7 linked regions of the Homo sapiens genome follow. The protein of the gene in region 1 purifies or fractionates together with the protein of each later gene. This does not show direct contact. Each region holds a gene or a part of one and is shown in the gene's direction. Other genes may lie near its edges.

Evidence for each region.
Region 2: the proteins of HNRNPCL2 (region 1) and CAMSAP3 purify together in Homo sapiens (affinity purification with mass spectrometry; one large-scale study listed by BioGRID and IntAct). This does not show direct contact.
Region 3: the proteins of HNRNPCL2 (region 1) and UTP15 purify together in Homo sapiens (affinity purification with mass spectrometry; one large-scale study listed by BioGRID and IntAct). This does not show direct contact.
Region 4: the proteins of HNRNPCL2 (region 1) and GUCY1B1 purify together in Homo sapiens (affinity purification with mass spectrometry; one large-scale study listed by BioGRID and IntAct). This does not show direct contact.
Region 5: the proteins of HNRNPCL2 (region 1) and NET1 purify together in Homo sapiens (affinity purification with mass spectrometry; one large-scale study listed by BioGRID and IntAct). This does not show direct contact.
Region 6: the proteins of HNRNPCL2 (region 1) and ZC3H7B purify together in Homo sapiens (affinity purification with mass spectrometry; one large-scale study listed by BioGRID and IntAct). This does not show direct contact.
Region 7: the proteins of HNRNPCL2 (region 1) and CFAP410 purify together in Homo sapiens (affinity purification with mass spectrometry; one large-scale study listed by BioGRID and IntAct). This does not show direct contact.

What each region holds. Positions count from the first base shown.
Region 1 is NC_000001.11:13,114,988-13,118,032, reverse strand, and holds HNRNPCL2 (heterogeneous nuclear ribonucleoprotein C-like 2), read left to right. Parts: upstream 1-1,178; 5' UTR 1,179-1,240; intron 1,241-1,451; 5' UTR 1,452-1,632; coding exon 1,633-2,514; 3' UTR 2,515-2,545; downstream 2,546-3,045.
Region 2 is NC_000019.10:7,602,363-7,605,862, forward strand, and holds part of CAMSAP3 (calmodulin-regulated spectrin-associated protein 3), read left to right. Parts: intron 1-2,863; coding exon 2,864-3,117; intron 3,118-3,500. UniProt on the Homo sapiens protein: Key microtubule-organizing protein that specifically binds the minus-end of non-centrosomal microtubules and regulates their dynamics and organization.
Region 3 is NC_000005.10:73,568,743-73,572,242, forward strand, and holds part of UTP15 (U3 small nucleolar RNA-associated protein 15 homolog), read left to right. Parts: intron 1-754; coding exon 755-933; intron 934-1,843; coding exon 1,844-1,969; intron 1,970-3,500. UniProt on the Homo sapiens protein: Ribosome biogenesis factor. Involved in nucleolar processing of pre-18S ribosomal RNA. Required for optimal pre-ribosomal RNA transcription by RNA polymerase I.
Region 4 is NC_000004.12:155,790,021-155,793,520, forward strand, and holds part of GUCY1B1 (guanylate cyclase soluble subunit beta-1), read left to right. Parts: intron 1-3,500. UniProt on the Homo sapiens protein: Mediates responses to nitric oxide (NO) by catalyzing the biosynthesis of the signaling molecule cGMP.
Region 5 is NC_000010.11:5,454,057-5,457,556, forward strand, and holds part of NET1 (neuroepithelial cell-transforming gene 1 protein), read left to right. Parts: intron 1-208; coding exon 209-466; intron 467-891; coding exon 892-1,062; intron 1,063-2,030; coding exon 2,031-2,217; intron 2,218-2,531; coding exon 2,532-2,938; 3' UTR 2,939-3,500. UniProt on the Homo sapiens protein: Acts as a guanine nucleotide exchange factor (GEF) for RhoA GTPase. May be involved in activation of the SAPK/JNK pathway Stimulates genotoxic stress-induced RHOB activity in breast cancer cells leading to their cell death.
Region 6 is NC_000022.11:41,325,525-41,329,024, forward strand, and holds part of ZC3H7B (zinc finger CCCH domain-containing protein 7B), read left to right. Parts: intron 1-39; coding exon 40-73; intron 74-196; coding exon 197-394; intron 395-1,681; coding exon 1,682-1,840; intron 1,841-3,500. UniProt on the Homo sapiens protein: May be a specific regulator of miRNA biogenesis. Binds to microRNAs MIR7-1, MIR16-2 and MIR29A hairpins recognizing the 'ATA(A/T)' motif in the apical loop.
Region 7 is NC_000021.9:44,332,891-44,336,390, reverse strand, and holds part of CFAP410 (nuclear encoded mitochondrial protein C21orf2), read left to right. Parts: intron 1-586; coding exon 587-633; exon of another isoform or gene 634-3,128; coding exon 3,129-3,358; intron 3,359-3,500. UniProt on the Homo sapiens protein: Plays a role in cilia formation and/or maintenance. Plays a role in the regulation of cell morphology and cytoskeletal organization. Involved in DNA damage repair.

The sequences.
Region 1 (3,045 bases):
TTTACAAGGCTTAAATTGTTGTCTGCAGGGTAGTTAAGGGGAACTGTAAGCTAAGGTCTACTTGATTTGGGGACAGTAAGCTGCCAGCAACCATGAGGAAGAAGGTCAGAGAGCAAGCTGACCTCATGGTGAATGCTGAATGCGCTGCAAGCTTGGTTTATTTTTGTTTCTCCCCCTCCCTTCTTCACTGATTAAACTTATAAAGTTTACAGGTATCATTTCAATTTCTTCCAGAGAAGACTTAACCTAAGCCCTGAGACCACTCAAGCCCTCAGTGGCACCTCTCTTCCACCAGCACGAGTGAAGAAACTGCTACCTTAGGTGATATAAAACCCACAAGACCATTCCATACATGGAGATCTTTATTCTTATTTTGTAGGGACGACTCCTCTGTGTTTATACAGCTATTTTAACTAGAAATATTTTTATAAATTTTATAATTTTGATGTGGCCAAAGATCTCCCCACAACACTACTTTCAGGTTTTATTTTTCTGTCTAATGTCTGGAACAGATCAACCCCTTCCCTGCCTCACATCAGGACTTGAAGGCGAAATAGCAGTAAAATTCCATCAGTGTTTGTGGATTTCATGAATGAATGCATTTTTTTTGACAAAATCTCCCTCTGTCGCCCAGTCAGGAGGGCAATGGTGTAATCTTGGCTCACTGCAAACTCAGCCTCCAGGGTTCAAGGGATTCTCCCACCTCAGCCGCATGAGTAACTGGACTACAGGCAGCCACCATCGTGCCTGGCTAACTTTTCTATTTTTGTAGAGACAGGGTTTCACCATGTGGGCCAGGCTGGTCTTGAACTCCTGACCTCAGGTGATCCACCTACCTTGGCCTCCCAAAGTGCTGGGATTACAAGTGTGAGCCACCTCACCTGGCCTTGAGTGAATGAATTCTTGATTTCCACTCTATCCCTAACTCTGTCAATTTCTTAATTCATAAAATGATTATGCATATGTGATATGAATGGATATCTCGTTCAATCCATTAGTCTTCGGACAGTCAAAAACCCAATCAGGATTAACTGAGTGGAGCTTCAGAAATGCAATCAGATATCGCTTTTTGATTGGAAGCTAGCAGCGGATACGTGGAGGGGCGTGGGTGGGAGTTGTGATTAGAAAGGTCAATAAAAGCTTCTAAAGACCCACAGGACAAACTCAAAGTCTTCAAGCCTGGAGTTCCTGCTTGGCTCTTCCTGAGGTCTGAGCACCTTCTAAACTACAACCAGATCTGGTAAGTCACTAATTTCTGTAAGGACACTCCCATGTGACCTACAGTCAGCCGGTCTAGAACGGTGACAGTGCAGCCTACGATGGCATAGAACTATATCATGTCTTTTTTTCTTTTTTTCATATGAACACTTTGAAGCTTTGATTTTTTTTTCTAAATGCAATTTTGTCGTGATTTCAAAAATGTTGTTGTGCTTTTCTTTACATCATTTCAGAATTCTTGTTGGCAGCCATTTTGTGAAGAGACGAAGACTGAGCTGTTTTGGCTGCATTTCTGGCCTCGAGCCGCAGTCAGTTTCTCCCCGTAGAACCCGGCAGTAGGAGACTTAGAATCGAATCTCTTCTCCCTCCCGCCTCCTGTTTTTGGCTTTTTGAGAAACCTTATCATCCAACACAATGGCCAGCAACGTTACCAACAAGATGGATCCTCACTCCGTGAACTCCCGTGTGTTCATTGGGAATCTCAACACTCTTGTTGTCAAGAAATCTGATGTGGAGGCGATCTTTTCCAAGTATGGCAAAATTGCGGGCTGCTCTGTTCATAAGGGCTTTGCCTTCGTTCAATATGATAAGGAGAAAAATGCCCGGGCTGCTGTAGCAGGAGAGGATGGCAGAATGATTGCTAGCCAGGTTGCAGTTATTAACCTGGCTGCAGAGCCAAAAGTGAACCGAGGAAACGCAGGTGTGAAACGATCCGCAGCGGAGATGTACGGCTCCTCTTTTGACTTGGACTATGGCTTTCAACGGGATTATTATGATGGGATGTACAGTTTCCCAGCACGTGTACCTCCTCCTCCTCCCATTGCTCTGGCTGTAGTGCCCTCGAAACGCCAGCGCATATCAGGAAACACCTCACGAAGGGGCAAAAGTGGCTTCAATTCTAAGAGTGGAAAGCGGGGATCTTCCAAGTCTGGAAAGCTGAAAGGAGATGACCTTCAGGCCATTAAGCAGGAGTTGACCCAGATAAAACAGAAAGTGGATTCTCTCCTGGAAAACCTGGAAAAAATTGAAAAGGAACAGAGCAAACAAGAGGTAGAGGTGAAAAATGCTAAGTCAGAAGAGGAGCAGAGCAGTAGCTCCATGAAGAAAGATGAGACTCATGTAAAGATGGAGTCTGAGGGGGGTGCAGAAGACTCTGCTGAGGAGGGGGACCCACTGGATGATGATGATAATGAAGATCAGGGGGACAACCAGCTTCATTTGATCAAGAATAATGAAAAAGATGCTGAGGAAGGAGAGGATAACAGAGACAGCACCAATGGCCAGGATGACTCTTAAGCACATAGTGGGGTTGAGAAATCTTATCCCATTGTTTCTTTACCTAGGAGCTTGTCTAACAACAAATTTTTCACCAGATCCTCTCCCTTAGTATCTTCAGCACATGCTTACTGTTCTCCCCATCCTTGTCCTTCCCACATTCATTAATTCATATTGCCCTGCGCCTAGTCCCATTTTCACTTCCCATGACACCCCTAGTAGTTTTCCTAAGTCTTACCCTGTAATTTTTGCTTTTAATTTTGACACCTCTTTATGACTTAACAGTAAAAAGGATGTATGGTTTTTATCAACTGTCTCCAAAATAATCTCTTGTTATGCAGGGAATACAGTTCTTTTCTTTCATACATAAGTTCAGTAGTTGCTTCCCTAACTGCAAAGGCAATCTCATTGAGTTGAGTAGCTCCTGAAAGCAGCTTGGAGTTACAAGTATGTGTGTTACACCCCATATTAGTGTGCTGTGTGGGGCAGTTCAACAAAAATCTAACAATGTATTTTTGTGAATGAGAGTTGGCATGTCAAATGCATCCTCAG
Region 2 (3,500 bases), on another chromosome or scaffold:
AGCCCTAGCTTAAGGTTTTGGTGTTTTTTGTTTCTTGTTTTTCATCTTAAAGGCCCTGAAAAGTCCTGTAGGAAAGAAACACGTGTGATTTTGCTGGTGGGAGCAAGACGTGCCCAAGGCCGGGGCTGGGGAGGTAGAGAGGAGGGTTTGGATTTGGGAGATATCAGGAAGTTGAAAGCCAAGGACGCATTAAATGTGGGGTGAGGGCGTAAAGAAAGGGAGGGAGGGTGATTTCTCACTGCCTTGGGGGCAGGGAGGAGGGGAGGTGTGGGTGAGATGTTGAGAATTGTGGGAGATGCCCAGGGTGCAGTGGGGCCCGTGGCAGCCGCTGTTGCAGTCTTCAGGTGGCCCTGGAAGCCGTCACGGGGTAGGGTGGCCTGGGGTGGGGGTGGGGCATGTCCATTTACAAGGAGACGCCTGTGGGAGGAAGGTTTCTGGAAGAAGGAGGCACTGGGCACAGAGCCCAGGCGAGATACGGGCCCACAGATATGCTTTGGAGGTCCCTGCTGGCCTTGGGGAGACCGGAAGCCATGAGGGCAGCATCGAGCTCAGGGAAATTGAGGGAGAGGTGGAGGGGGGCTGGGAGGGCAGGGAGGAAGTGAGCCTGAAATACCTCTTCTTTCAAGGAGCCAAGATGAGAGGGGCAAAAAGAAGGTCCAAGTCTACATGCGGGTGGCGCGTTAAGTGGGACGGTCCAGTGTGGTTTTAGAAGGTGGGAAAGGAGCCAGGACAGGGAGGGACAGAAGGCAGCCAAGAGTGCCTGGGTCCTCACAGGTGGAGAAGTCCCGTTCAAATATGTTCTGAAGCACTAGAACCCCTTACCCTGTTCTTTCTTTTCTTTTTTTTTCTTTCTTTCTTTTTTTTTTTTTTAAGACAGAGGCTTGCTCTATCACCCAGGCTGGAGTGCAGTGGCGCAATCTCAGCTGGCTGCAACCTCTGCCTCCCAGATTTAAGCGATTCTCCGGCCTCGGCTTCCCGAGTAGCTGGGATTATAGGCGTGTGCCACCATGCCCAGCTCATTTTTGTATTTTTAGTAGAGATGGGGTTTCACCATGTTGACAAGGCTGGTCTTGAACTCCTGACCTTAAAAGATCTGCCTACCTTGTTTTCCCAAAGTGCTGGGATTACAGGCATGAGTCACTGCACCCGGCCCCCACCCCGTTCTTTCAAACACACACACAGAACCCCAATATACAAAACAAGTCTGGGCACAGTGGCTTACCCCTATAATCCCAGCACTTTGGGAAGCCAAGGCAGGTGGATCACTTGAGGCCAGGAAATTCGAAACCAGCCTGAGCAACATGGTGAGGCTTCCATCTTTATAAAAAAATTTAAAAATTGGCTGGGTGTGGTGGCACGTGCCTGCGGTCCCAGCTACTCAGGAGGCTGAGGCAGGGAGGATCCCTTGAGCCCAGAGTTCAGGTTGCAGTGAGCCATGATCGTGCCACTGCACTCCAGCAAAAACTCAAACAAACAGAGAAGGCTGTGCAGGCTGGGCGTGGTGGCTCACGCCTGTAATCCCAGCACTTTGGGAGGCCAAGGTGAGCAGATCGCTTGAGGTCAGGAGTTCAAGACCAGCCTGGCCAAAATGGTGATAACCCTGTTTCTACAACATACAAAAATTAGCCGGGTATGGCAGCATCGCACCTGTAATCCCAGCTACTTGGGAGTCTGAGGCAGGAGAATCATTCGAGCCCGGGAGGCAGAGGTTGCAGTGAGCCAAGATTGCACCACTGCCCTCCAGCCTGGGCGACAGAGAGACTCTTATCTCCAAAAAACCGCAAAAGCTGTGCAGATTAGAACAAGAGCTGGACAGATTCCCTGCTGTTGATTTCAGTCACCTCTTCCCCGACCCCTGCCAAGCCTTCCTGGCCTTCTCCTCTCCACTCTTGGTCCTACGTGGATTTCTGCCCCCAGCCCACTGTCCACCTGGGGCTTCCTCACGCCTCTTCCCATTGTCCTATTTAGGGACCTCAGGCTGTCTCTATGATGTGACCTCACCATCTCTCTAAGCCCCAGCCTTTCACATAATCTGCCTCAAGGATGTCCTCAAAGCCCCTCACATTCAATTTCACCCCTTCACCTCCCATTCCTCCTGCACCCAAGCTCAGTCATTACCCCTCTCTTCCCTCTTCCCCCTCAGACCCAGCAAGGTCCTGGCTACCTCCCTCTCTGTCCCTTGCCTCCTCCCTTCAATCACCAGGTTTACATCACTCAACTCCCTCGATGTGCCTGTGGTGTGCCCACCTCCCCTGCTCGCCTGTGTGCCCCCCACTCATCCCCCCCTGCCTGCAAGCTAAGAGAGGGCGTCCAGTTTGCTGGGTCTAACCCCAGTCCTGGTGTTGAAGAGTTATTTGGCCTGGGGCAAGGGACTTTCCTTCTCTGTGCCTCAGTTTCCTCCTCTGTAACATGGGGGTTGCCAATTGGGCCCTGGCTGCCTCCTAGCGTTGATGTAAGGCTCAGTGAGTCTACATTGGCAAGAGCAGGAAGGCTCTTAGGATTGCCGATGTTATTGTCTTTCCTGGGACCTACAAGAGCCAGTCCAGCTGGCCTGGTATTGGGGGTAGCCTCCCCTCCTTTCCACTCTAAGTGCCCATCAGCTCCCTGAGGCACCGTGTTCTCTCCCACCTGCTGGGCTTTGCATCTGCAGGCCCCTCTGCCTACAACGCCATCACCCCTTCCTCCAGCAAACTCCTGCACATCTGCACTCTCAGCCCAGATCCCCTTTCTCCTTTCCCAATGCCATCCTCCCTGGTCCAGACACACTCTTAATCCGGGCCATGTGGTGTGTGTGTGTGTGTGTGTGTGTGTGTGTTGTATCTGGTGACCCTGACCCCCGTGTTTCCCCTCTATGCCCCCACAGAGCACGTGCCCCCGGAGCTGTGGGAGCCCTTCTATACCGACCAGTACGCGCAGGAGCATGTGAAGCCCCCGGTGACACGGCTGCTGCTCTCAGCCGAGCTCTACTGCAGAGCCTGGCGCCAGGCACTGCCACAGCTTGAAACACCCCCCAACCCCTCTGCACTGCTGGCCCTGCTGGCGCGGAGGGGCACAGTGCCTGCTTTGCCCGAGCGCCCGGTGCGCGAGGCCGACCTGAGGCACCAGCCCATTCTCATGGTAGGCCCCGCCACTGCCTGTTAGACCACGCCTACCATGCTCAGCTCCTCCCCTCAAGCTCCTCCCGCCAGTCCTGGCTCCTCCCAAGTTCCCTCTATCAGTCTTGGCTCCTTTCAAGCTTTGTCGATTAAGCCTAGCTCCTCCCATCAGGCTTGGCTCCTCCCCCAGGTTCCTCCCACCAGGCCTGGCTCCTCCCCTCAAGCGCTATTAAGCCTAGTTCCTCCCACGAGGTCTGGCTCCTCCCCTCAAGCGCTATCCATTAAGCCTAGCTCCTATCAGTCTTGGCTCCTTCCCTTAAGCTATGTCCATCAAACCTAGCTCCTCCTATCATCAGTCTTGGCTCTGTCCCTTAAGCTCTGTCCATCAAACCTAGCTCCTCCCAC
Region 3 (3,500 bases), on another chromosome or scaffold:
AAGAGTGCTTAACTTGGGTTCCGTGGTCCAGTTTCATGGGGCTTATGAATTCCCTAGAATTGTATGTGATATTTTAGGAAATACACGTTTATCTAGGGAGCTACTCTGTAGCTTTTGGTTAACTTTAGTGGGGTCTGTGGCCCAGCTGAGATTATGAATTACTGACCTGAAGACAACCTTACAGCTGGTAATGACAGCTCTATAGGCCTGTACTGTCTTAGAGGCTCTTATGTTGAAGTCAAGTAGGAAGGTGGATTTTCTTCTTGAATTTATAGTGTTTTGCCCCTTAATAAATTAAGTGGCCATCACAATTTTATATTATAACTTTGTTTTCAGGATTGCCAATGTCCGTGCTGAAATTTGTTAAAATTTAACAGAAATTTATGTAACATGATTCTATTTAGTGGTAAATCTCTTTAGAGTTTTTTAAAGAACTTTTTGAAATTTTAAAAATTAAAGTGCCTTTGCTTCCATATTCAGCAGCTAAGTGGAATTGTTTATATACTAGAAAATATAATTTTAAGGCTATCCTTTAATTTTTTTTAACTTTACAATATAGGAGTATTTACACTTCTTAATTGGTTTGGGGGCAAACACTTGTAAGTTTTCTCTTTCTTTCATGATTTCCCCCTATGAAGACTCCCTGAAACTCAGCTGCTTTTTTTTTAATCTGAGAAAAAGGAGCATTTTATGTTAGAAGGTATCAGAAAAATAATTTTCTTGCTTTTTAATATACTGACCTTCAATCTTTCAGAGCAGTTCATACAGTAGATTTTACAGCTGACAAATATCACGTGGTCTCTGGGGCTGATGATTATACAGTTAAATTATGGGATATTCCAAACTCCAAAGAAATTTTGACATTTAAAGAACACTCTGATTATGTGAGGTGTGGATGTGCTAGCAAACTTAATCCGGATCTCTTTATAACAGGTTGGTGAACTCTATTCCCTCCTGAAGCAAATAATCTCACGGGGATGTACTTTAATGTTGCTATGGGACTCTTTTGGGATGGAGGGGTTTAAATTTTTTTTATAAAGGAATATGTTTCTGATTAATTCTTCAGTTTTTAAATTAATTTTTATGTATGTATGTTTGCATTTATTTTCAGACAGGGTCTCACTCTGTTGCCCAGGCTGGAGTGCAGTGATGTGACCATAGCTCACTGCATCTGCTACCTCCTGGGCTCAAGTGATCCTCCCACATAAGCCTCCCAAGTAGCTGGGACTACAGGTGCCCACCACCACGTCCAGCTACTTTGTGTATTTTTTTGTAGAGACGGTTTTGCCATGTTGCCCAGGCTGGTCTCGAACTCCTGGGCTCAAGTGATCCACCTACCTCAATTTCCTCCCGGAGGACTGGGATTACAAGTGTGAGCCACCATGCCTGGCTTCCAATTGTTTTTTATTTTCTTATTCTTCTTTTGTTGATTGTTCATGTCTTCCAAATGTGTTTGGAAAAATCAGGCTGTCTTGAAAACATAATAGACTCTCAGAACTGTAATGTATAGTACCCTGCCTCAAGCAGCCAAGAAACAAAGAGTGCAGTTTAGCCTTTGTGGGTGCCTTTACAAAGATTTCCAGATGATTCAGTAGTGACAGTAGTCCAAAGAAAGAAATATTTTAAGATCAGAGCAAGTTAGATTCTGTATAGTATTATGTAGTGCTTCTTCAGACACGATCAGTAGTAGATGGTTTGGAGGTCCTGTGTCTTCATGAATATACATATATGTCTTTTTAAAACTCCATCTAAGCTTTTTTTCCTTTTAAAATTTATATCTGGATACACACAGTTTTTGTTGTTTTAAACAGTCAAACTAAAAATTCAAAAATTGACATTTTAGGATCATATGATCATACTGTGAAGATGTTTGATGCACGAACGAGTGAGAGTGTTCTCTCCGTTGAGCATGGGCAGCCAGTGGAGAGTGTCCTACTTTTCCCCTCTGGAGGTCTTCTGGTGTCAGCAGGTACTTCTTAAAAATAGCTTTCACCAATATTGTTGGTTTTGAATCACGTTTGTTTAAAATCAGTTGCTCTTTGTAATTTATCAGTGTGCATTTGAATTGCATATCTAAGTCTTTGTTCAAACAGTTGATAGGTAGGACTGGCAAGCAGTTATCATTTATTGTGTACCTAATGTGAGCCAGGCACTGTGCTGTTACATATGAACTCTAATGCCCTAGATGATGCTACAAGGTAGTTAGCTTTTTCCCTACTTTACAGCAATGAAATAAAAGTTTTAACTTATTTTTCAAGGCAAAGTGGTAAGTGGCAGATCTGAAATCACAGAACTCGAGAGCTCTGTGTATTTAGCCCTGTGCCATCTTATTTATTTAGCCCTGTGCCATCTTATTTAACCCCAGAAATTTAGCCCTGTGCCATCTTATTTAACCCCAGAAATTTAGCTCTTATGTATTTAGCCCTGTGCCATCTTATTTAACCCCAGAAATTTAGCTCATACTCCTTTTACTCCTACCTAAGAGATCTGCAGCAGCTTTTGAAAATCAGTTATTTGAGATCTAGTAGGCTTGTCTCTTTTTCTGTGACTCTCTTGATTGAAATGCCACTACCCAGCAAATAGCTGCTAGTACTAGAGAAAGGAGATAATGTGGCCTCAAAAGGGGCCTTGGTACATTTTTCAACAAGTTGGGACTGAGATGTTTTTCTCATTTTGCACATATTGCATTTTCATAATTACAGTGGAAGAAGTAAATTGGCTTTTTTCATTTGTAAATAAAGTAAAAATGTGTTCATATTAGAAGAATGTATAGGTAGTATGTATACTTGACAACATATATATTGCTGTGTGTACCTCCTTTTTTTTTTTTTCTTAATTCTAAAATCTGGCTAGAAATTACTCTGTTTTATATTCTTTTCCCCAGTACCTATTTGATTTAAAAATAAGTTGAGGCGGGATGTGGTTGCTCACGCCTGTAATCCTAGCACTTTGGGAGGCTGAGGCAGGCGGATAGCTTGAGTCCAGGAGTTTGAGACCAGCCTGGGCAACATAGCAAGACTCTAAGACTCCATCTTTAATTAAAAAAAGAAAAAAGTTGATAATGTCAGATGTGTCTACTTTTCTTGCTGTTATTCTGACAAATGGAAAAAATATCATGTTGAACAGGGAGAATAGAAAGCTGTGTGCTGATCTCCACTGTGTGTCACTAGCTAATTGTGACCTCGGGCAATCCCTTAAGGTCTCTAGACCTTGAAAATGAGAGGGTTGGACTAGATCAGTGATTTCAACTGTGATCCCTCTTGTGAGGTGCCACATAGGAGTGGAGAGGTGGGAACTGTGAGTTGGGTTCCAACTCCTGTTCCCCAGTCAAGATTTCAGTCTCCCCTTCCATCCCTTTTTCTGTCTTTCCATATTAGACTTTTTTGCTTGATATTTTGCTGCAGATCTACATTATTCACTTCCACTGCTATATAGAATTTCTTTTAAAAAATGATTTTATTATAATTTTCTTAAAATGGACTCTTTCAGTTATACATTTA
Region 4 (3,500 bases), on another chromosome or scaffold:
GTATATATAAGCCAAAACAGTGGAAAGACCAGCAATCTTCTATATTTGGCCTGGGAGTGCATTATACAGGATATTTTTTTCCTTCTGGCAGCAGATTTTTCTTTCTAATTATATAGTGTTCAAGGCTACAAGAAATTTACTTTGCATTCCCTGTGAACACACACCAGCTGGGAAGCAGAAGGATATGTGACGACTGAGCTGTGGGTTTCAGCATGCAAAATATCCATAATATGGATAGTCAAATTCTAAGGCAATATAAAATTAAGTATTATTTTATAGATCATTTTCTCTTTGTCGATTTTTGTCTGCCCCGAAATATAGTTGGAATGTCTAATTTTGTGAATGAAAGTGTTTGTTTTTGTTTTTGTTTTTAATCAAGTTACTTGGTGAAAGAAGCCAGGTCTGGTACTTTAAAAATTGTGCTGTTATTGATAATACACACTCTTAGTTTTGAGTGATGATTTCAAGGTACTGATAGGGCAACCGTACAACAAAGAGAACCACTGTTTCTCTTTACCTCTGGCCCTTACGGTTTCTCCCAGTCAGGCTGCTTTTTATGTGTTCAGCATGTTCATACCCAAGAGTCAATTCTCAGTAGCTTTAAACTTGAGGCCAAAGTGGGGAGATAGATACCTTTTTCCAACCTTTCTTTGTTTATAGAAAACCTATTAGACAGTTCTTTCTTATAGATCATAGATATATTGTAACACACTTGGGAGGTCTAAAACCCTTAAGTGGAGTATTATCCAAAATTAAAATAGTAACATTTAAATAAATTAGAAAGATATTCCACATATTTAATCTAGTAAAGTTATGTTAGAGTTCATGGTTTTCTTTCTTTCAGAAGTTGGTGTTAGTTCTTACGTGGCACCTTTTGGTGATTTCCAGGTGCATCGTTAGTTTTCTACAACCATTAGTAATGGCGGAAACCACGATTACTGTTGCACCAACCTAATAGAAAGTAGGACTGTGTATAACATGGCATTATCAAATGCAGACATTTAAAAATTAAAGCCTTGGGTAAAGTATCACAATTCATCCATGATTGGGAATCTCACTGGTATTCAATCAAAATAGTATATACCTCACATTTCCAATCTTTTTTTTTTTTTGAGACAGAGTCTCACTCTGTCTCCCAGGCTGGAGTGCAGTGGCGCGATCTCCGCTCACTGCAAGCTCCACCTCCCGGGTTCACGCCATTCTCCTGCCTCAGCCTCCCAAGTAGCTGGGACTACAGGCCCCCACCACCACGCCCGGCTAATTTTTTTGTATTTTTAGTAGAGACGGGGTTTCACCGTGTTAGCCAGGATGGTCTCTCTCTCCTGACCTCATGATCCGCCCGGCTCGGCCTTCCAAAGTGCTGGGATTACAGGCGTGAGCCACCGCGCCCGGCCAGTCTTTTGTTCTTGACATTAAACTAACAGTATCGCCTGGGCGCAGTGGCTCACGCCTGTAATCCTAGCACTTTGGGAGGCCAAGGCGGGGGGATCACGAGGTCAGGAGATTGAGACCATCCTGGCTAACACGGTGAAACCCCGTCTCTACTAAAAATACTAAAAAAATAGCCAGGCGTGGTGGCGGGCGCCTATAATCCCAGCTACTCGGGAGGCTGAGGCAGAAGAATCGCTTGAACCCGGGAGGCACAGGTTGCAGTGAGCCGAAATTTCGCCACTGCACTCCAGTCTGGTTGACAGGGTGAGACTCCATTATCAAAAAAATAGAGAAAAAAAAAAAAATAAAGCAAAACAAAACGAAAAACAAAAAAAAACACAGCATCTATACTGAGTGAACGTATATGCATATTGTATGCACTGTTGGTTTTATTTTTATTTAACCAGACTGAGAAAGAGGTAGGTTCGTAGAAACTTCAGAAAGAAACACAAATTAGGACACACTTGGAAACTACTATTACTGTGGTATTAGAATCTTTGGCATGGGAGATTGATGGCTTTAGCAAACTGTATGAAATTCAAGTATTTACTTAATTATATGGTTCACTTTATAAAATATTTAAATTCTCTTCTGACCATTTATTCAAGTGCTTCAATATGAACTTCTGAAATATTTGCATTTTATAGGTATATTTTATGTGTTTAATTTTTTCAAAAGCACTGTTTTGACTTCTCGAGGGATTCTCACATTAAGTTTATCAGGTCCAGAGATACCAGACAATTTGAACCACATGGTTAATACTAGATCATGTCATAAAGTGATATACCAATGAGAAGTTAAAAATATGATTAGAAAAGCTATTTGTTTTGCCAGTTTGATCAAAGCAAAAAAATTAGAATTGAATAATTAATTCATAAGTTTAGGATACATATAATTCAATTTCTCTAGTTAAATAGAAACAGAGTAGAACATCAAAAGTAGGCCTGTCATTTAAGGTTGACTCTCTTGCCTTGTCTATGAGTTAGGGAAATCAACCTTAATGTGGTAAAATTTTCAAATTATAAATAAGGATACTAATATTTAACCAGTATAGTAAGTTATTCTGACAGTGAGGTAGTAACATCCCAGTTTTGCTACAAAATATATCTAAAAGAATATATACAATAGCATCTATAGTTATTGTGATTTGTTTTTAAAAATTGCAGAGAATGCGACAGGGTACTCCTGAAAAAAAAAAAAGAAAAGAAAAATGAACAACATTTTGTTTTTATTTAGCTGTAACTGAAGAAATGTTGTCCCAAACTTTTTCTGTTTTGGGTCTGGTTGCCGTTGAGATCGAGTTTTCCCTTTGTAAGAGGGCTCATTGCTTGCAATTTCTTAACCCAAAAAGAAGAGGAAAATCTATACTTTAATAATGTATTTGCCTGTGAATAATACTTTAGAAAAGTAGGATTTTTTTACATTATAGATATTAGCTCACAATTACGATTACTTCTTTAGAATGAATTCCTAGATTTGCAATTAAATCAAAGAATCCACAAAATTTTAAGGAATTTTTATGCCTATTGTCAATTTATCCTTCAGAAAGATTAATCAAAATACCCCCTCATCAGTGGTATTTGAGATGCCTCTTTTTCAGTACCTTACCCAATTTAATATTGTAACTTTTTTTTCTTTTTTTGAGACAGAGTCTCGTTCTGTCGCCCAGGCTGGAATGCAATGGCATGATCTCGTCTCACTACAACCTCTGCCTCCCCAGGTTCAAGCAATTCTACTGCCTCAGCTTCCCGAGTAGCTGGGATTATAGGCACCCACCACTGCGCCTGGCTAATTTTTGTATTTTTAGTAGAGATGGGGTTTTGCCATGTTGGCCAGGCTGGTTTCAAACTCCTGACCTCAGGTGACCTGTCCGCCCCACCCTCCCAAAGTGCTAGGATTACAGGCGTGAGCCACTGCACCTGGCCTGGTATTGTAACTTTATGTATTTGATAGTTGATGGTTAAAAATGACATTGCATTTATTTTTGAATATGAATCTCTATCATTTTATTTCCCATTGTTTTAAAATAGTATTGTAATCTTATTTGATAGTGCTAGCTTGCTTTTAGC
Region 5 (3,500 bases), on another chromosome or scaffold:
TGGATTTAGCCAAATTATGAAAATTTGAAGAGCATTTTGATGATTGCTAAAATGCTATTCAGCTTCCATTATTATCTGCCAGAAAATGTCCACAGCTTGTTAAAACTCTCAAGAATAGCTGTACATTTTGTGTTTCATGTTTGCAGGCTTGTTAATGCACTCGGTCATAACAGGAACACATCATACCTTTTCTTTTATTACTCTTCAGTTACCGCGCTTGAATGCCTACAGAGGTTACTGTAGTAACCAGCTGGCAGCCAAAGCTCTTCTTGATCAAAAGAAACAGGATCCAAGAGTCCAAGACTTCCTCCAGCGATGTCTCGAGTCTCCCTTCAGTCGAAAACTAGATCTTTGGAGTTTCCTAGATATCCCTCGAAGTCGCCTAGTCAAATACCCTTTACTGTTAAAAGAAATTCTTAAACACACTCCAAAAGAGCACCCTGATGTTCAGCTTCTGGAGGATGCTGTAAGTAGTCCCTTAAGTGATTGTTTTGTTTTTTAAGTTTATACATTAGGCTGCTTTAGAACGTTATCTTCTGAAGATGCTGATTCACATCAGCATAGTGAATTGTTTTGTTGTTTTAAGTACCCAGTGCGTTAGTACGCTGTGCACTAAGCAATAAGGAGCTGTGTATGCTGGACTTCGCACATTTTGTATCTTAAGGGACAGGATTCTCATCTGATCTCACCTTGTCACCTTTGAACAAATCACTCAATTTGGCTAGGACTGTTTCTTGATCTATAAAATGAACAGACTGGCAGAATTAACTGATTTCTAGAGTCCCTTCAAGCTTTAAAGTTCTTCCATTCCATATGACATTTTTGCTCTGCAGGAAGCAGAATGAGTTAATAAACTGAAGCTGCTCTGTCAATTTTATTTATCATTTTCAGATATTGATAATACAGGGAGTCCTCTCTGATATCAACTTGAAGAAAGGTGAATCCGAGTGCCAGTATTACATCGACAAGCTGGAGTACCTGGATGAAAAGCAGAGGGACCCCAGAATCGAAGCGAGCAAAGTGCTGCTGTGCCATGGGGAGCTGCGGAGCAAGAGTGGACATGTAGGTGACTTTTGCTGCCGTGGCAGAGCAGCCTTCCCTCCTGCCTCTTTAACTTTTACACGTTTGTTATGAAGCAGGCTTGTAAAGGGAAAGTCATGACATAGTAAAAGAAGGTTGCCAATTTTAATTTTATATTACCAGCTTGATAAAGCCAACAAAGAAGATACCTTAAATGTCTCAGTGGAGAATCAGTAATACTTTATTTTTTAGTTTCGAAGCATAAATCAACTTGTTAGGCCAGGGGTTCCTGTCTAAATACAGTATTAGTTCCATAATGCTTAATAAAAAAGCATCCTTCAAAAAAAACTTCTAAGAGTTTATCTTATGCTTATGAAAGTGGTTTTTCGCACTACATAACAAATTTCTGAAGCAGATTGAATGAATGCAAATGTATTTTTTAAATGCTAATTATAAAAGTACCTGCTAGAACTAAGTGCAGTCACGGAATGGTATTTTTGTTTCATCATGCATTTTCAAAAGCCCAATTTATAAGTTGGAGTTTTGTTTAAAAAAATTTGAAATCTGACATCTTTGATTTTTCCCTCACGAGGGGAAAATTTATAAAGGTATAAATTTGTGTGGGACAAAATAGAACCATTAACATTTTACCAGCTTGCATTTTTAATCCCTCCTTCGTGTTAGAAAACTGTGGTATACAACGCTAGTGTTTCAAGTCATGTTGCTACTAATAGGTCTTTGTGATGCAGAGCATTCACTTAGCTGCTGCTTAATCTGATATTACATACCAATAAGAAACATTTTATTTATTCTGAGATTGGAAAAACTTTCCAAATAGAACATGCTTAGCCTTGAAATTGCCATCTTTATGGATTACTAGATTTGTCACTTAGAGAGATCTTCGAAAAATAAATCTGATGAAATTAATAATGTCGAGTTATTTTAGCAATATATTTCAGTCACTTAAAAACACAAGTTTCCTATTTAGCGTTTGTTTCCCATTTCTCCAGAAACTTTACATTTTCCTGTTTCAAGACATCTTGGTTCTGACTCGGCCCGTCACACGGAACGAACGGCACTCTTACCAGGTTTACCGGCAGCCAATCCCAGTCCAAGAGCTAGTCCTAGAAGACCTGCAGGATGGAGATGTGAGAATGGGAGGCTCCTTTCGAGGAGCTTTCAGTAACTCAGAGAAAGGTAAAATGCAGGCCTTCAATAATTTAAAGAAATAGAAGCTCAGAACTGAAGTGAATTTAGTTTTGCCTTTAAGAATTCTAGAGATGAAATGGCTCCATTGTCCTATACTTGTTACATCCATTGAGTTGTCCAGGCCTTCCCAGCTCGAACACCCGCAGGTGTATCTAAGAAATAATGCATAGGCTTAATGTATTCACATTGACATAAATAAATTGCCATAAATTGACAGTCACGTTAAGATTGTATGACCACTTTGTCTAGAATAAACCTTTTTTTAGCCTGATTTCTTTTTTTTTTCCAATTTTTTTTTTCAGCTAAAAATATCTTTAGAATTCGCTTCCATGACCCCTCTCCAGCCCAGTCTCACACTCTGCAAGCCAATGACGTGTTCCACAAGCAGCAGTGGTTCAACTGTATTCGAGCGGCCATTGCCCCCTTCCAGTCGGCAGGCAGTCCACCTGAGCTGCAGGGCCTGCCGGAGCTGCACGAAGAGTGTGAGGGGAACCACCCCTCTGCGAGGAAACTCACAGCCCAGAGGAGGGCATCCACAGTTTCCAGTGTTACTCAGGTAGAAGTTGATGAAAACGCTTACAGATGTGGCTCTGGCATGCAGATGGCAGAGGACAGCAAGAGCTTAAAGACACACCAGACACAGCCCGGCATCCGAAGAGCGAGGGACAAAGCCCTTTCTGGTGGCAAACGGAAAGAGACTTTGGTGTAGAGAAGGCTCTGTGTGTTAACTGATGGGAGAGACTGTTTGTTTATAAATGTGTACAGTTTTGTTTTCTCGTAAGGGGAGCATCATAGGGTTACTTTATACCAGTTGTAACATTTTCATTGTTTTTGGTTGTTCTTTTTTCTTTTTTTAATGGCAGCTAAAGATATACAGATTACTGTTAAATTGCAGTCCTTTTTTTTTTAAAGATATTTTCTTGAATTATTTAGAACATGGTAAGCCTGGTATTTTTTAATCAAACAAAATATTTATGAAATGGGTTTTCTCTTAATTCTGGATTCATCATGGCTTTCTAATACCAATTGTAATATTTACAATATTCACCAAAACTTAGAATTTTGCAAATGCTGGAATTCTGCCAGTGTTTCTTTGCTAAGCCTTGCATGCAAAATTTGAAATTTTAACATTGGCACCCAAAACCTACATGGAATGTATGTCTGGAGTATTTCAAACTTTACATTGAAACATAATTTCCTTGGAAAACAAACCATAAGCCTGAGGAGGTTTTTATCAACTGGAATGCTTTATATTAGTTTGTTTTTCACTG
Region 6 (3,500 bases), on another chromosome or scaffold:
CCGGGCTCACCCAGGCCTCGTGTTTTCTTTTCCTGATAGGTCGACACTACCCCTAAAGCAAGAAGAATATGAGGTGAGTGTCAGCTGCCAGGCTGAGCAAAGGTGAAGGGCGGAGATGTGCAGGGGAGAGGCGTGGGCCGGGTGCCAGAGCTGGGGCCAGAGGTCATGAGCCCCCTACACACCTTGCCCCCAACAGGCCTTTCTGCTCAAGCTGGTGCAGAATCTGTTTGCTGAGGGCAATGATCTGTTCCGGGAGAAGGACTATAAGCAGGCTCTGGTGCAGTACATGGAAGGGCTGAACGTGGCCGACTACGCTGCCTCTGACCAGGTGGCCCTGCCCCGGGAGCTGCTGTGCAAGCTGCATGTCAATAGGGCCGCCTGCTACTTCACCATGGTGAGCCTGGCACCCTCTTTTCTCTCCTCCTCTGCTGCCCTGATCCCCTGGATGCCCAGTCGAGCCAGGCCCATACCCCAGTGAGCCTGTAGACCAGGGCCAGCCTCCTCCCAGCCTGCTTTCAGAATTTCATTGTCTGTTCTCGTGGCTCTTAATCTCAACTGTACAACATGCTCAGCTGGAGAGCTTTTAAAAGTACGGATGCATAATAAAAAGTTTTTAAAAAAAATGATACTGATGCCCTAGCCCTAGCCCTGCCCTAGATGAAGTAAGTTAGAATCTTGGGGTGACCCTGGGCCTTGGTGGGAGTCTGACTTCTCCTGCTCCTCCCTCCCGGCCCCACTGTTTCTTCCATAGCCTCAGCCTCCTCACTGTTCCTTCCATAGCCTCAGCCTCCTCACTGTTCCTCCCATAGCCTCAGCCTCCTCACTGTTCCTCCCATAGCCTCAGCCTCCTCACTGTTTCTTCCGTAGCCTCCTCACTGTTCCTCCCATAGCCTCAGCCTCCTCACTGTTTCTTCCATAGCCTCCTCACTGTTTCTTCCATAGCCTCCTCACTGTTCCTCCCATAGTCTCAGCCTCCTCACTGTTCCTCCCATAGCCTCAGCCTCCTCACTGTTCCTCCCATAGCCTCAGCCTCCTCACTGTTTCTCCCATAGCCTCAGCCTCCTGTTTCTTTGCGGACTTCAGTGCCTTCCTCCTCCTCCTCCTCTCCTCCTTAGAGCTGCAGCCTCCTCCTCTTCCCTGTCCTGTGCACCCACTGACTCAGGTTCATGAGATCCTGTGGGAGGCTCTGCTGCAGGCTCTCTAGAGGACCCCATGACACCTCTGCCATCCAGCGAACTCTTCTGGATAAATGGCTCCTGGATGCCTCAGGGTTAACCCTTGTACACTCTGCACACAGAGCTGCCTTCATGGTCTCACTGCCTCTTAGAGATGCCATTGTTACTCTCAGCTCATCATGTTCCCAACCAAAGGCAGAGATGGAAATAGACGTGCTTGAGTGGCCGGGCTCATGGTTGTAGATCTTCAGGCCCTTCCCTGCAATATCCTGCCCGTGCCCACTGCAGCCCCATCAGCTGGACACACAGACACCCTTGATCAGAGTCTGGACACCAGAGTGCTTCCTTCTCTCCTGGAGCCTCGAGCCCTGTCCCTGACCCAAGACTTCAGCTCCTCTGTCTCTGCCAGGAAGGGAAGCTGGTGTTCCTTCCTAGGCAGGGGCAGGAGGCCTGGGGGAGGGAGGGTAACAGGTGTTGACCAGTGACCACATGCTCCTCTCTGGCAGGGCCTGTATGAGAAGGCGCTGGAGGACAGCGAGAAGGCGCTGGGCCTGGACAGTGAGAGTATCCGGGCGTTGTTCCGCAAGGCACGCGCTCTCAATGAACTGGGACGCCACAAGGAGGCCTACGAGTGCAGCAGCCGGTGTTCCCTCGCCCTGCCCCACGTGAGTGTGGCTCTGCAGCCACGCCGGTGCCTGCTCAGAGGCCAGGCTTCTGACCTTCCGGCCCTCACTTGGGCCCAGCCACCACATCCTTCTGTGTCTCACTTCCTCCCCTGTGACATGGCCATGCAGATCCTGATGTTAACACTAGCTCCCATTCTCTGAGCGCTGACTGGGTGCCAGGCACTGCTAGGATGCATTGTGTGTATTAACTCACCTAATACTGGCAATAACCCTAAGAGGCAGATACTGTGATTATTCTCATTTTAAAGATGATGAGGCCAGACACAGTGGCTCACGCCTGTAATCTCAGCACTTTCGGAGGCTGAGGCAGGCGGATCACCTGAGGTCAGGAGTTTGAGACCAGCCTGGCCAACATGGCAAAACCCCATCTCTACAAAAAATACAAAATTTAGCCGGGCATGATGGCGTGTGCCTGTTTTGCTAATTCTGTTTAGTTCACAATTAAGACCCTTTCTTGGCCAGACACAGTGGCTCATGCCTGTAATCCCAGCACTGTGGGAGGCCAAGGCGGGAGGATCACTTGAGCTCAGGAGTTTGCAACTAGCCTGAGCAACATAGCAAGACCCTGTTTCAACAAAAAATTAAAAAAAAATTAGCTGGGCATGATGGCACGCACCTGAGATCCCAGCTACTCAGGAGGCTGAGGTGGGAGGATCACTTGAGCCCAGGAGGTGGAGGTTGCAGTGAGCTGTGATTGCACCATTGCACTTCAGCCTGAGTTTGACAAAGCAAGAGCTTGTCTATTAAAAAAAAAAAAAGCCTTTCTTTATGACCATGGTCCCCTGACCCATATAGCATTTTAGAGTGTCCACAACAGATCCACACCTAGGTCTCACTGGTACTTACTCATGAGGAGGACAGGGCAGGTTTCATCCGCACCACAGCGGATAGAAAGGAGCTGGGACCCAGTTAGGGTTAGTAAATGGCCAGGGAAAGTAACTAAGGGCTCCTGGCTCTGCTTTAGGGAACTCTCTCTTTTCCCAATCTTTGTTGGGCAAATACTGACCGAGCTCCTGCTCCATGCTGGGCACTGGGGACCAGAGATGACTCCGACCCAGGCCCTGGCCTCTAGGAGATTGTCAGTGAGGTAGGAGGTAGACACGTGCACAGATGTCACAGTGTCTTCCTTGCCCTTTTGTGCCTGGACCCCAGTTTGTAGCCACCTGTTTCTTTGTTCACTGACTGTTCTCCCCCTTTAGATTGGAATCTCCATGAGGCCTGGGCCCATCTGCCCTGTTCGCTGGGGTATCCTTAGCCCCTCACTCTTGCTTGGCACGTAGTGTATGTTCTGTATTACAGCCTTGGAAGGGAAGGAAGGATGGTTGCTGTTTAGTGATCACTAAGTGTGGTCCAGGCACTGTTACAAGCTTTCTATGCCCTGCCTCCTTGGAGCCTTACAACCCTGTGCCTCATGTATGTATCGTCACTTGCTGGGGGTTGCAGGAGATTGTTTGGCGATAGAAACAAGTTGTAGAACTATATAATGTGACCTCATTCCTGTTTAAAAAAAGAAAGAGATGGCCGGGCACAGTGGCTCACGCCTGTAATCCCAACACTTTGGGAGGCCGAGGCGGGTGGATCACTTGAGGTCAGGAGTTCAAGACCAGCCTGGCCAACATGGTGAAACCCTGTCTCTACT
Region 7 (3,500 bases), on another chromosome or scaffold:
CCCTGCGTAGGGGACATTGGGGTCCCCTTACCTGATGTCCTTTGAGGGCATCTAAAGTAATGAATGCTCTGTCTCCACTGCTGGCAGCATCTGACAGCAACGATGCTGTCGTAAAATTTAATAAAGACAGAGTGCGTGCAAGGAGGAGCCTCACATTTCTCCTTCAGTCTGCGGGGCGTCTGGGCTGCAAGGTGGTGTCAGAGGAGAACCTGGCATACTCGTGGGCATTCATCCTGGGCACACTGGCTGAGCAGGGCCGCTCCCCTCAGGCCCTGGGCATTCACCCTGGGCACACTGGCTGAGCAGGGCCGCTCCCCTCAGGCCCTGGGCATTCACCCTGGGCACACTGGCTGAGCAGGGCCGCTCCCCTCAGGCCCTGGGCATTCACCCTGGGCACACTGGCTGAGCAGGGCCGCTCCCCTCAGGCCCTGGGCATTCACCCTGGGCACACTGGCTGAGTAAGGCCGTGCCCCTCAGGCCCCGGAAGTGGGTTGGCCGTGGCTTCGACAGTTCTCTGTGGCTGATGGCAGTGCGGCCGCGATGCCCTGCTGTGCCATGCTTGCTAGTCATGTTCTTTTCCTCCTAGATCTCCATTTGCCAGGAGATGCCCAGCCTGGAGGTGATCACGCTCAGGTACCTCGCTCCTGCTGTCATGCTCAGCCTGGGGCCTGGAAGCCGGGGCAGAGCCTCACGTCCCTCCAGTGGGACCCAGCACTGTGACATAACCTGGAAACCTCCAACACAGACTGAGGGCGGCTTCCAGAAGGGGAGGGGCCGGGACAGCGAGAGCTGGGCCTACCCTGTGGCCCCCATGTTCAGCCCTCCTTCCTCAGAGCCTCACCTGGGCCTCCTGATGGCTCCTGTCCCCTGCCTGCCCTGCTGTACGCCTGCCCACCCTTGGCCTGTGTGCTCCGATAAGCCATTGCTGTGTTCACTGGGCCAGTCGGTGGTGGAGCCCTCCTAAGGATTCACGGTGGCCCGCCCTGGCCGCCCCCACGGTGGCCACATCTGCCCTGGGACCCCCAGAGTCCTGGCCTCTTCTGCCCCCCAGTGCCACCACTGCCTACCAGTTTCTCTGCACCCCATGACCTGTGCCCGTCTTCTGGGGTCACTGCCCTCCCAGCAGACTAAGGGAAGCTTGAATGAACAAATGTTACTGGACTTTCAGGCAGTTGGGGTGTATTTGGGGGCTCTGGGGAAGAGAAGAGCTCCCTTTATCCCTGAATTCCCTCCTGCCTACTGTGGGACCCACGGAGGGAGCAGACGCTCATGGCTCACCACTGCCCACCAGACGCTGGATGGGCGCCTTCTGTGGGTTTCCGCATTTAAAAGCTCACAAGGGTTTAAACCCTGTGGGGAAGGCCCACCCCTCTGGCAGCTCAGAAGTCTCTAGGGCTTGCCCTCTGAGAGTGGGTATTGCAGGCCCCTGGTCCCTGACTGTGACCTACCTTCTTGATCTCACAGGCAGCCACGGGGTAGGCCAGCCCCTGCCCATCCTCCGTAATGCCCTCTGAGGTTGGCATTGCCATGTTGATGCCCGTGCCCAGCCTGCTGCCCGCCATGGGCTGAGGCCAGTCCATCTGGTGTTCAGGCATCCCCAGCGCGGGCACCAGCCTGTCCTGCCCGAGCCTTGCTGAATGAATGAAATGGGCTTGGAGGCATGCTCATGGGTCAAATCTCAGCCCTCCCATCTATTGGCTGGCTAACCTTGGGCGAGGCATGGCCCTCTCTGTGCCTCAGTTTCCTTTCTGTAACATGGAGGTATTACAAGTGCCCACCCCACAGGGAGATGAGGAGGAGATGGAGCCCGAGTCCAGAGGTTGAGCAGGGGTGCGCGTGCCCGCCCAGAGGTTGAGCGGGGGGGGGGGGGGGGTGCGCGTGCCCGCCCAGAGGTTGAGGGGGGGTGCGCGTGCCTGCCGCGGGGCTCGTTTCACTAGTCAGGCGACACAGTGAGGCTGGGATTTCAGGCCTGCCTCCGAAAGGCTTACCTGACAGGGAAACGTGGAGCTTGTGGTTCCCACGGTGGCAGGAAGCTTGGGGCGGGGCTGTGGATCCAGCCCTATCCCTGCCGCTCACTGAGTCACCCAGGGGCCACAGGGCCTCCGAGCATCAGGCCGCTCGTGTGTGGGGCCATTTCTGTCACATCTCGGGAGGGACAGGACCCCAGGGGTGTTGACCGAGCTCAGGTGCGTGGTGCCTGCACGCCTGACTGCACTGGAGCGGAGCAGGAAGCCTCGAGGCCGCGGACGCGGTCGGTACATCACGCTGCTGCCTGTGCCTGAGGCAGACCCCATCCTGGAAAGAGTCCCACAGCCGGAGTTTTGCTCTTGGTAAAATGGGGCGGCCTCATAGCTAGGAGCTGCATGAGACCTGGGAAACCCCGAGTGAAGGGATGGCATGGGGAGGGGGGCTCAGGACGGCAGGCTGCCCATGGGGGCCTGGTGACCGCCCTTCTGAGGCGCCTGCCGGACGCGAGTGCAGCCCTCCAGGCAGGGGGCCCTGGCTCCGCGCCTTTGAGGGCCTGCGGGAGCGGCTCCGCGTGTTCGCTTGTGGAGGGGACGGACCCCACGCTGCAGGGTAAAGCCTGCAGGTCCCCGCTCCAGGCCTGCTGTTTCTCTTCTCTGACGCGTCCACGTTCTGTAGAATGGAAATGAGGCCCATCCCCAGTGTTGCCGCCCTCAAGTGGGGGTTTGGAAGGTCCGTGCTCACTCCCATGTCACGTGGAGCTGGCTCCTAGTTTTTGCCATGAGTTTTTCTGGCCGCTCCCTGCTTTGGGGCAACATGATATGTCCCCTGAGAGGCCTTAATTTTCCTCACCTGTGAAGGAGGGCCACATCCCCCACCTCCCGCACTCTAGCGCCCTGAGGAGCTGATGTGGAGCGTCGGGCCAAGGGGCTGTTGCTGGTGGGGTCCACCCCAGTCCGCCTTTGAGTTCAGGGCCTGGCCTTCCTACAGCTCTCTCCTCGGCCCAGGTCCTGCTGCACGTGACTTGTGACATCCGATTTAGGCTTCTCAGGAGAGGGCAGGGACACAGGTCCCATGAGTGCCTTTTACTGGGGGTGGGGATTGAGAGGTGGCCCTGGGGGCCCTGGCCACGTCCCTCGCTGACTGTGCTGGTCTCCGTGCAGTGTCAACAGCATCTCCACCCTGGAGCCTGTGAGCCGGTGCCAGCGCCTGAGTGAGCTGTACCTGCGGAGGAACCGCATCCCCAGCCTGGCTGAGCTCTTCTACCTGAAGGGGCTGCCGCGTCTGCGGGTGCTGTGGCTGGCCGAGAACCCGTGCTGCGGCACCAGCCCCCACCGCTACCGCATGACCGTGCTGCGCACCCTGCCGCGCCTACAGAAGCTGGACAACCAGGGTAGGTGGCCGCAGCGGAGTCACCGGCCCTCCCAAAACAATCCCTGGAAGGGGATGTCCCCAGCCCTCTTTTCTCTTCTCCTTTTCTGCAAATACCTGGTCTGGCGGGACATAGATGTGTCCTGTGAAGTCTCCTCCAGAGG